4 linked regions of the Homo sapiens genome follow. The protein of the gene in region 1 purifies or fractionates together with the protein of each later gene. This does not show direct contact. Each region holds a gene or a part of one and is shown on either strand. Other genes may lie near its edges.

Region 1 (4,240 bases):
CACTCTGATTTTTAGAATTTTCAGTTTTTCTGCTCTGTTTTTTCCCCATCTTTGTGGTTTTATCTACCTTTGGTCTTTGATGACAGTGACGTACAGATGGGGTTTTGGTGTGGATATCCTTTCTGTTTGTTAGTTTTCCTTCTAACAGTCAGGACCCTCAGCTGCAGGTCTGTTGGAGTTTGCTGGAGGTCCACTCTAGACCCTGTTTGCCTGGGTATCAGCAGCGGAGGCTGCAGAACAGCAGATATTGGTGAACAGCAAATGTTGCTGTCTGATTGTTCCTCTGAAAGTTTTGTCTCAGAGGAGTACCCAGCCGTGTGATGTGTCAGTCTGCCCCTACTGGGGGGTGCCTCCCAGTTAGGCTACTCAGGGGTCAGGGACCCACTTGAGGAGGCAGTCTGTCCATTCTCAGATCTCAAGCTGCGTGCTGGGAGAACCATTACTCTCTTCAAGCTGTCAGACAGGGACATTTAAGTCTGCAGAGGTTTCTGCTGCCTTTTGTTTGGTTATGCCTGCCCCCAGAGGTGGAGTCTACAGAGGCAGGCAGGCCTCCTTGAGCTGCGGTGGGCTCCACCCAGTTCGAGCTTCCTGGCCACTTTGTTTACCTACTCAATCCTCAGCAATGGTGGGCGCCCCTCCACCAGCCTCACTGCCACCTCGCAGTTTGATCTCAGACTGCTGTGCTAGCAATGAGCAAGGCTCCGTGGGCGTAGGACCTTATGAGCCAGGCATGGGATACAATCTTCTGGTGTGCCGTTTGCTAAGACTGTTGGAAAATGCAGTATTAGGGTGGGAGTGACCTGATTTTCCAGGTGCCATCTGTCACCCCTTTCCTTGGCTAGGAAAGGGAATTCCCTGACCCCTTGCACTTCCCGGATGATGTGATGCCTCGCCCTGCTTCGGCTCATGCTCAGTGCACTGCACCCACTGTACTGCACCCACTGTCTGACAATCCCCAGTGAGATGAACACGATACCTCAGTTGGAAATGCAGAAATCATACGTCTTCTGCATCGCTCACGCTGGGAGCTGTAGACTGGAGCTGTTCCTATTCGGCTGTCTTGGCTCCACCCCTGAGCATTTTGCATTCTAAGGACCTTTGCACAGGCTTCTATTCATTCTTTAGTGGAAGTTTGTGTGTTTGTTTCAAGAAGCTACTTTTTAGAGCAGTTTTAGGTTTACAGAAAAATTGAGCAGAAAGTACAGAGAGTTCCCATATACTACCCCACCCCACCCTACCCCACCACTAGTTTCCTTTATTATTAGTATCTTGCATTGGGATGGCACATTAGTTGCAATTGATGAGCCAATGTGGATGCATTCTTATTAACTAAAGTCCATAGTTTACATGAGGGTTCTCTCTTTGTGTTGTACATTCTGTGGGTTTTGCCTAATATGTCATGTCATGTATCCACCATTATAGTGTCATACAGAATAGTTTCACTGCTCTAAAAGTGCCCTCTATCCCACCTATTCATCCCTCCCTTCCCCTCCAAATCCCTAGAAACCACTAATCTTTTTTCTCTCTCTATAGTTTTGCCTTTTCCAGAGTGTCATATAATTGGAATCGGTAGTAGGTATTTAATAAAGACTTGCTTAGTGAATGAATAACTGATTGCCATTAGAACCATTCATATGAGCTCTGGTGAGGCTGAAGAGAAGGATATAGATGGGTGAGACAGAGAGGAGGCAGGACTGACAGGGTGTGAGTGGCCATGAGTGATGCAAAAGTAGCTCAGGTTGCTCCCTTTCATCATAGTCCAGGTGCCCTGGAGAAGAGACCAAATAAATAGACATTGGCATGATGTCCTGCAACAGCTTCTTCTTATGCAGGTCATGCAGGAAGAATTGCATGCACAAGCCCTTATCCTAGAGTCACTGAACACAAACCTCTACTATACCCAGTTGGAACTCCAGAAAGAGGTGAGTCCCTACTGGAGTGGGGATGGGGGTTGGGGGAAGAACCCAGGTCTCCATCCAGCTCTGCCATATAGCTCTGCCCTGGATGGCTCTGGGTTGGGGAAGATGGCTATTAAAATGTATGTCTTTCAGAAAGCTATAGTGGGAAATCTGGAGAAAATGCTTCAAACCAAGTTTGCTGAAACTGAAGAAAAGTATAAGCACACCATACAGATCCTGACGGAAGAGAACATTCATCTGAAGTGCGGCTGCTGCTGAAAAAGACATAGCTGAGTTCTCTTTAGGAGTGGGAAGGAGTTTGAGTGAGGAATGGGTTAGGAAGATAGACCAACTGCTCCCTAGTTATGTCAAGGCACAGGTGTTTTCGGGAGGGAGGTATGTCACTCTAGGCCAGTGACACAAAGCCAGATAGTTCACTTGAGGTGGAGTGGAGATGTGTCTATACTTCTCCCATTCACCTGTGTCCTTGTTTCTATGCAAAACAACACAGGACATTTGTCTTCCAGTTTCTGAGTTTGCTCAGTTCTATGACTGAGGGTGGTTTTTAAATCCATCTCCCCTGGGAGTCTGATGGTCTTGCCATTACATGCAGCTGCTTCTGGTTCCTATGGAAATCACCTTTGGATCAGAAGGTGTACTGTTACCTGAAGCTGCATCTTAAATCATTAAAATAAATTTTGGTCAATACTTTAATAGAAGAAAGTTATTTATTGCATTGATTTAGTAGAAAATTCCTCGTATAGGACTTTAGTCACCTGAACACCATACCTCACTAAATTCAAAACCACTGCAAGTAATGAGTGAGAGACTGCTGTGGTGAAGGAACGAAGGCACATTTCTCTCCCTGCACTCCAAATATCCTATACCCTTTCTAGCTTTTGAGTTGACATTGATACATCTTTCCTTTCTTTTTACAGGCAAAAGATAATTTCTAAGAATGAAGAAATTTGTGAAGGATGTTCTGGGAGATTGGCCTCTATTACTGTTTCTAAGGATGATTCTGACACTGTGCAAGATGGTAGCAAGAAAGGACAAGAATCATAAACAAAAAGTTGCTCTGCATTGTTGAAGATGGTTGGCACACCATTTCTGTAGGCCCAGGAAACTCCTGGGAGGGTTTTCTTGAGAAAATGCATATAATGAGTTTAGTTCTTGGGTTGCTCTGACTCTCTGAATGTCTGAAAATGTTTGAATTCGCATCTGAATTTCACAGCTTATCACGGACTCTTCACTGAAAAATGATGCTCTCCATACTGGGAGCTGAGCTTTCTCTGAGTTTTGTACTATTTTTCTTCTACCTTGACGTATTTCGTTAGAAAGAAACTGATTTGAAGGCCTTCTTCATATTGAACTTTTACTATATTTGGGAGGTGTACCTTTGTCCCCTGGGGCATTTAGGTAGCAAAAAAAGATGATGTGTTGATTTTACTCTAAAATATTTTTCTCTCACACCCATGCCCCCTACTTCCCTACCTCTCAATCATGTTCCCTAACCTATGACTTAGGAAGGGTTTCTGATGATTCTTACCACCTCCTCTGGACCATCACCAGAATTCAGACACCCACAGTGCAGGCAACATAAATAAGTGAAGTGGGCTAGACATAAGGAAAACAATTGCCCAAGCACAGTGATAAGTGGCAACCAACAGCAGCCTCAGTAGAGGGGCTTGGGCAGGGCTGGGGCACAGCGGATGGGGAAGAGTGACCCACAGAGCACTGTCCCATCTGAAGAAGGTGCTTCTCAGACCTTTGCCATGCAAAAGCATGAGGTCAATATTGTCAGATAGTATGATTTTTTAAAAGAAGTTATTCTGGTTTTTATGTGATATCTCCTAATTTTTAAACATTGACAACAAATTTTAAAAATACAACTGTGTGTGCCGATCATGGGAGACTCAAGTAGAACATGTCTGTAGTCCAGATGTTTTCCACCTGTGAGATGTCATTGGCAGAAACCAAAACCAAACACAAAAAATCTCCAAGGAGCAATAAGATCAAATTATATTTTATTCTATTAAAAAATGTTTTTGAAAAAAGATACTTAAATTTTAAAGATAACTTAATTCCTAATGATTTAAAATAATCCAAGCAGAGATGAAAGAGCAAATGCAAATGCATAAAAAGACCCCAGAGCATTGTTAGCAAAAAGCAAATATAGTTAGCCAAGCATATATATATCATAAAAGCAATAAGAAGGCATAAAGCAAGTTTGGGGAGAGCTTATTTAAAACTTGTAAAAATCATTTGAATTTTTAAAAGATTTCAAACAAATTTTGTTTTATTAAAAAAAAAATTTTTTTTGAGACGGGGTCTTGTTCTGT
Region 2 (4,165 bases), on another chromosome or scaffold:
ACTTTGGGAGGCCGAGGTGGGCGGATCACGAGGTCAGGAGATCGAGACCATCCCGGCTAAAACGGTGAAACCCCGTCTCTACTAAAAATACAAAAAAAAATTAGCCGGGCGTAGTGGCGGGCGCCTGTAGTCCCAGCTGCTTGGGAGGCTGAGGCAGGAGAATGGCGTGAACCCGGGAGGCGGAGCTTGCAGTGAGCCGAGATCCCGCCACTGCACTCCAGCCTGGGCGACAGAGCGAGACTCTGTCTCAAAAAAAAAAAAAAAAGAAATCATCACATGTAGGCATTTTCTAAATATATTGATGAAGTTGCTGTATCTAAGAATTGCAGACATAAATAAATTTAAAACCAAACATAGAGGATTACATTAGCAAATCTATAATTGACTACTTTTTGATAAATACCTGGGAGGACATTTTGGTTTTATCATCTGATTTGGCTTATGATTCCTTGAATTTACAAAAATTAAAGTACTTTGTCTTTGATCTCATTTTATCATCACAGTAGTACTAAGGGAGAGGGAAAATACCAGGTTGAATAGAAAAGGAAACTGAGAGATAAAATGGTTAGAATTTGGACTTTTAGAGCTGAATGATTTAGAGATTATCTAATCCAGCTTTCTCATTTTACAGGTGTAGTTACTGAGCCCACAGAGGTTTATTAAATTGTCAGCATCATATGCTAGTTTACGATAAAGCTAGAATAGAACCCACATCTGCTCTAATTCCTTGCTGACATTTGTAAAAGCTACTTTAGAAGGGTTCTATTGAGTATTGCTTCATTGATGTTTAGCAGATAGTTTATTTAAAAATAACAGGCTGGGTGTGGTGGCTCACACCTGTAATCCCAGCACTTTGGGAGGCTGAAGCGGGAAGACTGCTTGAGCCCAGGAGTTCAAGACCAGTCTGGGCAACATAGTGAGACTCTACAAAAAGTAAAAAAAAAAAAAAAAAAAAAAAAAAAACTAGCTAGGCATGGTGGTACACACCATTAGTACCAGCTACTTGGGGGGCTGAGGCAGGAGAATCACTTGAGTCCAGAAGTCTAGGCTGCAGTGAGCCATGATTGCACCACTGCACTCCAGCCTGGGCAACAGAGCAAGACTCTGTCTCAAAAATAAATAAAATAAAATAAAAAATAATAATATATCTTTAGCAGCTTTGAAAGGGATAATCTCAAGTTTTGCTGCTCAGACTACTGAGATTATTATTAGAAAATAGAAGAAACAAAGAGTTTTTTAAGTGACTCTTATTCAGTAGCTTCCGTAATATTGAGTGTTGTAAAAGTCCAGATGTAATAAAATACAACTCAAGTATTATGAAAGCAGAGACCTTAATTATATAAGTGCTTCCAAAAGAGCTTAATTTACATTATAGCTATTCAAAGTGTATTACATGAATTCTAAAGAAAATCTACAGATTAAATATTGTCATTATAAATGATGTACTTGAACTTCTTTTGAATAATTAGCTTGGAACTTTGTTCTGTGGAGAACATGGGCTTTGGCATTCTGAAGTACTTGGTACTGATTTTTTTTTTTAATTTTCTATTTAAAATAGATGTTTGTATCTGAAAGCAAGGAGACGGCATCTGGAGATGTAGACAGCTTCTACAACTTTGCTGATATACAGATGGGAATATGAAGTGCAATGTGGAACCAGGACTTGGTATTAAGCCTTTCCCAACTTGTGAATATAGAATTTGATAATACACTTTTGTGTATTAGCAATGGTTTTTACTAATGCTAAAACTTTTAAAGTTTATTTTTTAATAAATTGTTGAGTATTACATCATTTACTTGAGGTTCAAAAATAATTCATTTTAAATTAAGTAGTTTTAATCAGCTTAAAAGCTATTTAACCCATTTTAATAAGCTTGCAGTTTTGTTTCTCTGCATATGATATTCTTATTAGAAAACAGAAGTAGCTAAAAGTTTATTATTTTAATCCTATTTAAATGTTCTTTCAAATCTCTAATAATTTAAACTTTCCTCAGTGCTCCATGATACTTTTTTTGAGACTCCATATCATTGCTTATTTTACCTTTTTCAATTTAGAGGGATTTGTTACTAGTCGATCAATTAGAATGAACCTATGCACATTTTTATGTACACATATCCAGTTATATAATTGCTTCCTAGTTGCATTATATGGCAAATGAGATTTTGTACATGGAGTTGACATAATACTTTGTAAATTGAATTTTTTAAAGAAATAGGCATTTGATAACCAGCTTGGCAAGTAACTCTACTAACAGATGTTGGTATAGCTATTTAAAGACTACTTCGTAAGTAGTATGATTATTTGAATAAATTACACATTGTTTAGTTTTTTAATACAACTGCTATATGACTCTTCTGCTTCCTGATAAGAAAAGGTATATGCAATGCTAAAACTGTAGAAGCCCAATCACCAGCAGTTTTTAAAAAGGTGATAACTTTTATTAGCTCTTGTGGGCTATCAAGAGAATTGGAACAAAACCTTGTGACTTTTAGGTAAGAAATAGGCATGATGATAAGCTATGCAGATTATTAAAAAGCTTGATACATTTGATTTTTCATTAGATATGCCATTCATATCAAGTAATGTTCAAGTATGATAAAATTATTTTGGTTGCTTTAAAGCACTGTTTCCCAAATCTACCTGATCATAATAATTTACCAGGAAGCAGAGGAGAGCTACTTGTTTAAAAATCCACATTCTTGGACCCAATCCTCAGATGCACGGATTCAGTCTTCAGGGGAAACTCTGTTTTAAGGGGTATGTTGTAATCTAAAGTAATTGGTTCAGGAGGTGTCAATAGGTTGAACTTGTGAGAAGGCACTGAATCTGCCATCCACATCACATATAGCAGCTATTATGAAATCAGCTTTCATAGGCCTATTTTTAAAAGGAATCTGAAATTTAATTCTATTTTGATAAAACTAAGACTGAAAATAACCACTTGTAAACATTCCTATGATTGTTACTAAAATGTATTTTCATGTTTAAAATGTTTTTGGATATTTTTGGGTTAATAACTACTACATTGAATTGCATGTTAAGGTGCAGAAATAATACATTAAAAGATTTTCACTTTAAATTAATTAGTAATATTGAGCGCTCACCCTGTGCGTGGCCTTGTGCTAACCATTAGCACTGCATCATTTCAATTCTTTTATAAGGGCATTCAATACTACAAAATCAACATGATTTCATAAGGTGCAAATAAAAGTTGGTGACAGATTTAATATAATTTTGATCACAATTTACAAATGATCTTTGCAAATAGTGGTCAGACGGCATTAGTTTTTCCCTTAGTTAAGCTAAATTAAAGGGACTCCATCCTGTTATGATTATATTATTATTATTATTATTATTATTTTTGAGGTGGAGTTTCACTCTTGTTGCCCAAGCTGGAGTGCAATGGCGCGATCTCGGCTCACCACAACATCCGCCTCCTGGGTTCAAGCGATTCTCCTGCCTCAGCCTCCTGAGTAGCTGGGAATACAGGCATGCGCCACTACACCTGGCTAATTTTTGTATTTTTAGTTGAGATGGGGTTTTTCCACGTTGGTCAGGCTGGTCTCGAACTCCTGACCTCAGGTGATCCGTCCACCTCAGCCTCCCAAAGAGCTGGGATTACAGGTGTGAGCTACCGCGCCTGGCCATGATGATATTATTAAACACCATTATTCACATTTCAAATAATAACAATACTTTTTGTTTTTCAAAAATAAAATGCAATGTTATATAAAGCTATAAACTAAGTTCTTTATGATATTTGAGCAACAACTCAGGAATATAACATATAAGGGAGATGTTAATTTAAAAATTTCCACTACACTTATTATCTATTAACCAAAGCTTAAAATTTTGTATTCTTCTGTTAGATAAGACCTTTTACCCATTTAATTTGTCTTTAAGGACAGTCATTTGGCTTCTGAATGTTTGAAACGATTTTAAAAAATAAGTAGTGCTATGGTTGTTTCTATAATTCTAACCTTTGATAGTAATCAGAATGTATTACATTTCATTTCTGAATAGCTTTTGAATTTATGAAAAATTATTAACAATGAAAAATTGGTAATTTTATTAAGTTATATGTGTTTAAATATTATATTAGCTTATTTCTCTTGCATTAATAGTACTGCTGTTTTTGTTTTGCTTCTTTATATTTATGTCTAG
Region 3 (4,165 bases), on another chromosome or scaffold:
TGGGTGCCTGTAATCCCAGCTACTTGGGAGGCTGAGGCGGAAAAATCATTTGAACCTGGGAGGTGGAGTTTGCAGTGAGCCGAGATCGTGCCATTGCACTCCAGCCTAGGCAACAAAGGGAGATTCTGTCTCAAAAAAAGAAAAAGAAAGTCATGATTTCTTTTGTTTTGCCATACCCGTCCCCCCATTTTTTTGAAGTTTCCTTAATGTGCTTCAATTTAGGACTAACTTTTTTTGTTTCAGACAAATCTTCCTATTTTCAAGCTGAAAGAATCTACTGTTAGAAGAAGATACAGTGACTTTGAATGGCTGCGAAGTGAATTAGAAAGAGAGAGCAAGGTAAGAATGATTTATGATGCAACTTTAAAGCAAAACATTCCAAGTTTTAATGTTTAATATTTCTCAGGAAAATGATATTGAATAAAATGGGTAAAAGCAAATATGATTTCTTTTTTTCAAATAGTTCAGTGTCATTTTATAGAGGTAGAGTCTGTGTAAATTTTCCTTAGAACTCTTTCTCTTGTCTGCTTTGGCCCAGTTGAGGTCTTTGCTGACTCACACTTCAATAACACTTCTTAGAACCTTGTTGCTATTACTTCCTTCCTTTCCCTCATCGTCCTATTCCATCTTCCCCTCTCCACACACTTAAGCCAAGTTTCTCTTCCTCAATACATTTTATAAATGTCAGTGTATTTCCAATTTTGTTTTAGTGACATATAAGTTTTTTTCATCACATATATGTTCATGTAACAGAAGTTTCATAAAGCAGTAATGACCTCACTCTGTGTGATATGTGCTGATATTCTTCAGATTAGCGTTTTTAAATGATGGCCATGATCCACTAATGGGTTGCTGCCGGCAATTTAAAAACACTGTTACATGCCTGATCTTCTCTTAGAATAGAATTTGGTAGCTTTGGCATCAAAATAAATTAAAGCAAGGTCTCACTCTGGTGTCTCTCATTTCAGCCCTGCCTCAGAATGACATCAGAGGCAAGGAGTCATGGAAGGACGTGGTGTGCTCAGAATGATGAAAAGTTATTTTGTGACTAGAAAGTAGGTAAAAAGGTGTGGGTATGGTAGGAGTCCTGAACTAGATGAAGGCTAGTCTGTACTCATTTCTCAAGTTTAATAAGGGTTTTCTTTTTTTTTCTGTTTCTAGCCTAAGATAAAAGTGGCTGCATATGAGCACAAAATATGCAGATCATAGCATTCCAACAAAAATGTAAAGAAGGCCGGGCATGGTGGCTCATGCCTATAATCTCGGTACTTTGGTAGGCCGAGTCAGGAGGATCTCTTGAGCCCAGCAGTTCAAGACCAGCCTGGGGAACATAGTGAGGCCCCATCTCTTCCAAAATTTTTAAATATGAATAAAACTAGAAATACAAAATCTGTGTTAAGAAAGCTCTCAAACTTTACCAAAAGACCAGACCTAAATAAAGAGGGGCCAGGTGCAGTGGCTTACGCCTGTAATCCCAGCACTTCAGGAGGCCAACGTGGGTGGATCACTTAAGCCAAGGAGTTCGAGACCAGCGTGGGCAACATGCGAAACCCCATCGCTACAAAAAATACAAAAATTAGCCAGGCATGGTGACATGCACCTGTAGTCCCAGCACTCAGGAGGCTGAGGCAAGAGGATCACTTTGAGTCCAGGAGGCAGAGGTTGCAGTGAGCTGTAGTCTTGCCCCTGCACTCCAGCATGGGCACCAGAGCCAGGCCCTGTCTCAAAAAAAAAAAAAAAAAAAAAAAAAAAAAAAGTGTAATACTGTATTCCTTGTAATACTGTATTCCTCGTTTGGAATGTTTACTGTTGAAGATTTTTTTATTTTATAAACATTTTAGCTCGTCCTTTGTGTTCTAGGAGTTACAGGTAGAGCTATGAACAAATTAAGGTCCCCTCTTTTATGGTGCTTATATCCTATTAGGTAAATTGCGGGGGAGGGGGTTGTTGAAGAGAAGGCAGGAAAAATATAGTAAAATATATAGATGTCAGATGATGAGAAGCTCTAAAAAAAAAAACAAAGCTAAACTAAGGGAAGTAGGAAGTGCCAGGGGAGCCACTCTCATATAGAGCACAAGGGAAGGCCTCACTCTAGGTGACATTAGCAGAGACCTGCATGAAGTAGAGCAGTATCTTCTAACTTATTTATAAATTCATAAGATTGTAGTAGAAATTTCAGTAGGGCTGTTTATAAAGTTGCAGATTTATTTATGAGCTTTAGAATCAGAAAAAGCTCAAGAATAACCAAAAAATATTTTCAGTATATAGTGGGCAGCAGGTTATTTGTTCTACCAGACATCAAAACATCTTTTTTTTTTTTGAGACTGAGCCTCACTCTGGAGTGCAGTGGCATCATGTCGGCTCACTGCAACCTCCATCTCCGGGGTTCAAGCAATTCTCCTGCCTCAGCCTCCCGAGTAGCTGGGATTACAGGCACCCACCACCACACTCGGCTAATTTTTTTTATATTTTTAGTAGAGATGGGGTTTCATCATGTTGGCCAGGCTGGTCTCGAACTCCTGACCTCAGGTGATCCGCCCTCCTCGGCCTCCCAAAGTGCTGGGATTACAGGTGTGAGCCACTGTGCCTGACCCAAAACATATCTTAAGGCTATAGTAATTCAAACAATGTGGTGTAGTCATATGGCACTTAATGATGAGAATACATTCTAAGAAATGCATCCTTAGGTGATTTCATTGTTTGTGCAAACATCATATGAGTATACTCACACAAACCCAGGTGGTGTAGCCTACTACACACCTAGGCTATATGGTACAGCCTATTACTCCTAGACTACAAGCCTATCCAACATGTTACTGTACTTAATACTACAGGCAGTTGTAACATAGTGGGAAGCATTTGTGCATCTAAACATATAAAAGATATGGTAAAAAATACAGCGTGGAAGACTTTTTTTTTTTTAAAGCATGGAAGATTTTTTAAATAGTACACCTGTATAGGGCACTTACCATAAATGGAGCTTGCAGGATTGAAAGTTGTTCTGGGTGAGTCAGTTAGTATGTGGCGAGTGAATGAGAAGACCTAGGACATTACTGTTTATTACTGCAGGCTTTATAAACACTGTACATTGAAATTTATAATTTATAAAATATTTTTCTTCAATAATAAATTAACCTTAGCTTACTTTTTAAACTTTTTACTTTAACTTTTTGACTCTTGTAATAACACTTAGCTTAAAACACAGACACATTGAACAAATGTACAAAAATATGTTCTTTATATTCTTATTCTATAAGCTTTTCTCTATTTAAATTTTTTTAACTTTTTCTTAAAAATTAAGTCACAAATATACATAGTAGCCTAGGCCTGCACAGAGTCAGGATCACCAAGACATCTCTAGGCAATAGGAATTTTTCACCTCCATTATAATCTTAAGGCACCACAGTTATTATCTTAAGTGGTCCATCTCTGATGGGAAACACTGTTATGCAGTGTATATTGCTTTAGGTTGGGCAAATAGATTAGTGGAATATAATAGAGTTTAGAGTTTGACCCATGTATTTATAGGGAATTTAGTTCATAACAAAAATAGCATTGTCATTCAGTGGGAAAGGAATTCAGCAAATGGAGTTGAAATATTTGTCTATTAGGAAATAAAGATTTATATCTCACTATATTACAAATTACAGATGGTTGGGAGATTGATTGATTGATTGATTGACAGAGCCTTGCTCTGTTGCCCAGGCTGAAATGCGGTGGCGTGATCATAGCATACTATAATATCCTCCAACTCCTGGTCTCAAGTGATTTTCCTGCCTCAGCCTCCCAAGTAGCTGGGACTACAGGCATGAGCCACCATGTCCAGCTAATTTTAAAAAATTTTTTGTAAGGATGAGGCTTCACTATGTTGCCCAGGCTGGTCTTGAATTCCTGGCCTCAAGTAATCCTCCTGCCTTGGCCTCCCAAAGTGCTGGGATTACAGGCATGAGCCACCACACCTAGCTGAGAAGTGTCTTGATACATAGGCTTTGGGCTTTGCTTGACATACCATGTGGCACACTGGAAATGTTTAATAAACGTTTGCTGAGTGTATATTTTGCTTTTTTTTGTAAATTTATTTATTCATTTTTTAAAAATTTTTAGTAGAGACGGGGTTTCACCGTGTTAGCAAGACGGTCTCGATCTCCTGGCCTTGTGATCCGCC
Region 4 (4,165 bases), on another chromosome or scaffold:
ATAATAATATTCATATTAAACCTATTTGTGTGTATATGTGTGTGTGTATATATATATATGCATACATATTTTAATAATGCTTGAGTTCTTTCATTTTATATTAAAAATAAAGCAGTTCTACCTCTCCCCTGTGCCCCACCACTCTTCCAGATGGCCTTACAAAGCCTTGCATACCTGACTTGGGGGCTACTGCTCTAGACACTCAAGGTCTCGACTTCTTTGGTTATTCACTCTCTCTGCATCGTCAGCCTCTTTCTCTTGTATCATTCTCATGAGTGTACTGAGAAACTCTGGTGTTCTCTAGCGTCTTCCATCATTAGAGATTGTCCCTTAGTCTAGCCTTCTTCTTTATCAAAAGCTCCATTTTTCTACTCCCCTTCATAGCAGAACCATTCAGAGACATCTCTACATGCCATCTCACTTCCTCCTCTTTCATTCCATCTTCGCCTACTCCAATCTGACTTTCACCCCCAGCACTCTACTGAGATTGCTCGTGTCATTGCCATCAGTGATTTTCATGCTGCCAAATCTACTGGATCATCTGTCTTCATCTCACTTGGCCTCTCAGTGTCAGGTGACATAGTTGAGTACCCCGCCCTTCTAGAAATGCTCTCCTCTTTTAGCTTCTGCAATAATACACTCTGCTGGTTCTCCTTTGTTGAGGCTTCTGCTGCGACTCAGGAAATAGCTTTGGTCTCCTTTTGATATTTGTACTGTTTCCCTAGGTGATCTCATTCATTTCTAGGCCTTTAAAACCAAGCTGTGTGCTGATCACTCCCACATTGCGTTCCTCTGCCCTGCTTTCTCTTCTGAGCTCCAGATGTGTACATCCAATTCCCCTCCCCCCGCCCACCATATTTTCACCTGGAGGTTTCATAGGTATCTTCAAGGCTGCAGCTCTACAGTGAACTCTTCATTTCCCCCTTTTCTTCTTTCTACTATTTCTCTTTTGCCTCAGTTTTCCTTATTTCACAGAATAGTAAATTGTTTATTTAGTTGTTAAATCCAGAAATCTGGAATGTATTCTTAACTTCTATCCTGAGCAACAGGGAGAAACCCCGTCTCTACTAAAAATACAAAATTAGCCAGGTGTGGTGGCGCATGCCTGTAATCTCAGCTACTCGGGCGGCTGAGGCAGGAGAATCACTTGAACCCAGGAGTGGAGGTTGCAGTGAGCCAAGATCATGCCATTGCACTCTAGCCTGGGCAACAAGAGCGAAACGCCATCTCAAAAAAACCCAAAAAACCCCAAAAGACTTATATCTTTTTTTATCCCTTACATCTAATTCATAAGCACATCCTTTAGTTCTACCTACAACGTATGTATTTCATCTGTCCACTTATCTTTGTCTCTATTTTAGTCCAGACCATCACTTTTCTTCCAGATGATTGTAATAGCACATTCCACGCTCACATGTGCCTCTTTCCAATCTGTGCCTGATATTATAACTAAGAGCGATTGTATAAGATGTAAATCAAGTTATTTTTCTCCCTTCTACATCCTCCAGTGCATCTAGAGTTAGCTTCAGATTCCTTACCACGACCTCTAGGGCTATGTGTGATCTGGCCTCCGCCTTCCTCTGCCTCCTCGTAGCATGCCACTCTGTCTTTGGCTCTTGTGCTCTAGTAAAACAAGCCTTTTTTTGTCCCTAGAATAGGTTGGTCTTTTTCCTGAGTGCCTTTGGCTTCTCTGGTCTGTCTTTCTGGGAAGCACTTTCTCTGGCTTGTCATATTTCTGGTGCCTTCTTTTCCTGAAGATCTCAGCTTAAATCCCGTCTCCTTAGAGAATTCTTCCTGTTCTAATAAGATTTCCTGCTGGTTTGTTTCTGTCTTAGTACTTAACACAATTTGGGGTTGCTTTTCTTTATTTATTTACTTGATTTGGTAGAAAGCTTTGTGAGAACAGGGACCTTGTTTCCATCTGGTGGTAGGTGCTCAATAAACAGATGCTGCATGAAAAAAAAAACGTTTGGAAGAATACTGGTCTTGCCCTGCCTATCATGTGAATGGTAATTACTAAATGAAGACAGAGAAGGAAGGTATCTTAACAATGGTGGGCAACACAATACAGGGAGGACAGGTTAATGTGTTGATCATGTCTGACTCTTTCTTTAAGACAGCCTAAAACTAGGGAGGAACAAATCAGATCAAACGTTACAGAGGTAAATGTAAAATCCTGTGATTTGGTTACAAATAAATCAGTTGCATTTTACAGAATCAGGAAACTCCAGTCTGACACCGATTCACATGCCAAGTCCTAAGGAAAGTGGTAGCCGAAAAGCTAATGCAGCCCTAACCTACATTAATCATTCCATGTATTTCTGTATTAGGGAAGGGAATTGACCAATATTACTCTCCTCCAGTGACACCAGTAGAATTATTAGAATTTTGTAGAATTACAATGTAATAATACCTCATTCATCCATGCACAAATCCATTTATTCATTCCTTTACCATTTACTGAGTAAATTCTGGGCACTCATATTATAGTCATGAGCAAAATTGCCATGGCTTTTGTGTTCATGGAACTTAATGTCTAACTCCTGAAGAGAAGTGAGTTCTCTTTTTGTGAAAGTGTTAAGCAGAAACCAGTTTGTCATTTATTGAGACAATGCATTCTCATGGTTAAGAACTCGTGCCCTGGAAGCCAGGGGTTGGTGTCCAGGGGCTTTAAATTCCAGCTCCAGTATTTGCCAGCTGTGTGACTTTGGGCAAATTAATGTCTTTGGTCAGATTAATGTCTCTGTGTTTCAGTGGTCTCATCTATAAACTGGAGATAATAATACTATGCCTAGAGTTAAAATGAGCTAATGCACACAAGTAACTTACAACAGTACCTGGTACGTAGTAAGCACTTAATAAATATTTTAGATAATAAGCAGTTAATAAAATGGTGTTGAGATTTAGGGTGAGAAAAAGTGGTCACAGAATAATCCTGGTGTATCAGGACACACATTATTATTTTTTGTTTTTTATTAAAGATTGTTAGTAATTTGAGCTTGAACTTGAAAATCTTGACTTTAGAGTTTGATGACATTTGTTTTATTTGGTTTTCTGTTTTGGGCTAGGAAGATGTGACTCCTATTTAGAAATAGCCACCAGGTAGTCCCCCCACAACTCCCCAAATGCTTACAAAGAAACACACCTTTGGAAATAATACAATTGTAGCTATATATCAACGTCTGTTTTTGCTTTGGTTTTGTTTTAGTGGCAGCTGAAATATCCTAAACTAATTCTCCGAGAAGCCAGCAGTGTATCTGAGGAGCTCCATAAAGAGGTTCAAGAAGCCTTTCTCACACTGCACAAGCATGGCTGCTTATTTCGGGACCTGGTTAGGATCCAAGGCAAAGATCTGCTCACTCCGGTATCTCGCATCCTCATTGGTAATCCAGGCTGCACCTACAAGTACCTGAACACCAGGCTCTTTACGGTCCCCTGGCCAGTGAAAGGGTCTAATATAAAACACACCGAGGCTGAAATAGCCGCTGCTTGTGAGACCTTCCTCAAGCTCAATGACTACCTGCAGATAGAAACCATCCAGGCTTTGGAAGAACTTGCTGCCAAAGAGAAGGCTAATGAGGATGCTGTGCCATTGTGTATGTCTGCAGATTTCCCCAGGGTTGGGATGGGTTCATCCTACAACGGACAAGATGAAGTGGACATTAAGAGCAGAGCAGCATACAACGTAACTTTGCTGAATTTCATGGATCCTCAGAAAATGCCATACCTGAAAGAGGAACCTTATTTTGGCATGGGGAAAATGGCAGTGAGCTGGCATCATGATGAAAATCTGGTGGACAGGTCAGCGGTGGCAGTGTACAGTTATAGCTGTGAAGGTACAGTCTGCTCTTGGAAAAAGCAGCCCTGTATGTAATAATATGACCCGAGTTGTTTAGGCTCTGGAGATACACACGCATATACATGAACATGTTTGCATGTGTGCTTGCGTGTGTACATGCACATGCGTGTGTGTGTATCATGTGTCCTTTTTAGTCTTGTCACACCTGTATGTCTGCAGAATATGCCTCTTTCTCATCTGGCCATGCTAGCTGGCTCATTGTTATACTGTACTCAGAATATTTTCGCACGTAAGCACTGCTGTCATTTGTCTCTCTTGTGCCCAGGAGAGCAGCCTCTTGGTTTCATACAGCCGACTGTCTTCTCT

The links.
Region 2: the proteins of FLACC1 (region 1) and RP2 purify together in Homo sapiens (affinity purification with mass spectrometry; one large-scale study listed by BioGRID and IntAct). This does not show direct contact.
Region 3: the proteins of FLACC1 (region 1) and SNX3 purify together in Homo sapiens (affinity purification with mass spectrometry; one large-scale study listed by BioGRID and IntAct). This does not show direct contact.
Region 4: the proteins of FLACC1 (region 1) and FTO purify together in Homo sapiens (affinity purification with mass spectrometry; one large-scale study listed by BioGRID and IntAct). This does not show direct contact.

Annotation. Positions count from the first base shown.
Region 1 is NC_000002.12:201,287,378-201,291,617, reverse strand, and holds the end of FLACC1 (flagellum-associated coiled-coil domain-containing protein 1), read left to right. Parts: intron 1-1,758; coding exon of another isoform or gene 1,759-1,832; coding exon 1,833-1,922; intron 1,923-2,051; coding exon 2,052-2,161; coding exon of another isoform or gene 2,162-2,177; exon of another isoform or gene 2,178-2,221; intron 2,222-2,836; coding exon 2,837-2,963; 3' UTR 2,964-3,347; downstream 3,348-4,240.
Region 2 is NC_000023.11:46,878,128-46,882,292, forward strand, and holds part of RP2 (protein XRP2), read left to right. Parts: intron 1-1,558; coding exon 1,559-1,642; 3' UTR 1,643-4,165. UniProt on the Homo sapiens protein: Acts as a GTPase-activating protein (GAP) involved in trafficking between the Golgi and the ciliary membrane.
Region 3 is NC_000006.12:108,219,124-108,223,288, reverse strand, and holds part of SNX3 (sorting nexin-3), read left to right. Parts: intron 1-243; coding exon 244-339; intron 340-4,165. UniProt on the Homo sapiens protein: Phosphoinositide-binding protein required for multivesicular body formation. Specifically binds phosphatidylinositol 3-phosphate (PtdIns(P3)).
Region 4 is NC_000016.10:53,822,656-53,826,820, forward strand, and holds part of FTO (alpha-ketoglutarate-dependent dioxygenase FTO), read left to right. Parts: intron 1-3,208; coding exon 3,209-3,836; coding exon of another isoform or gene 3,837-3,866; intron 3,867-4,165.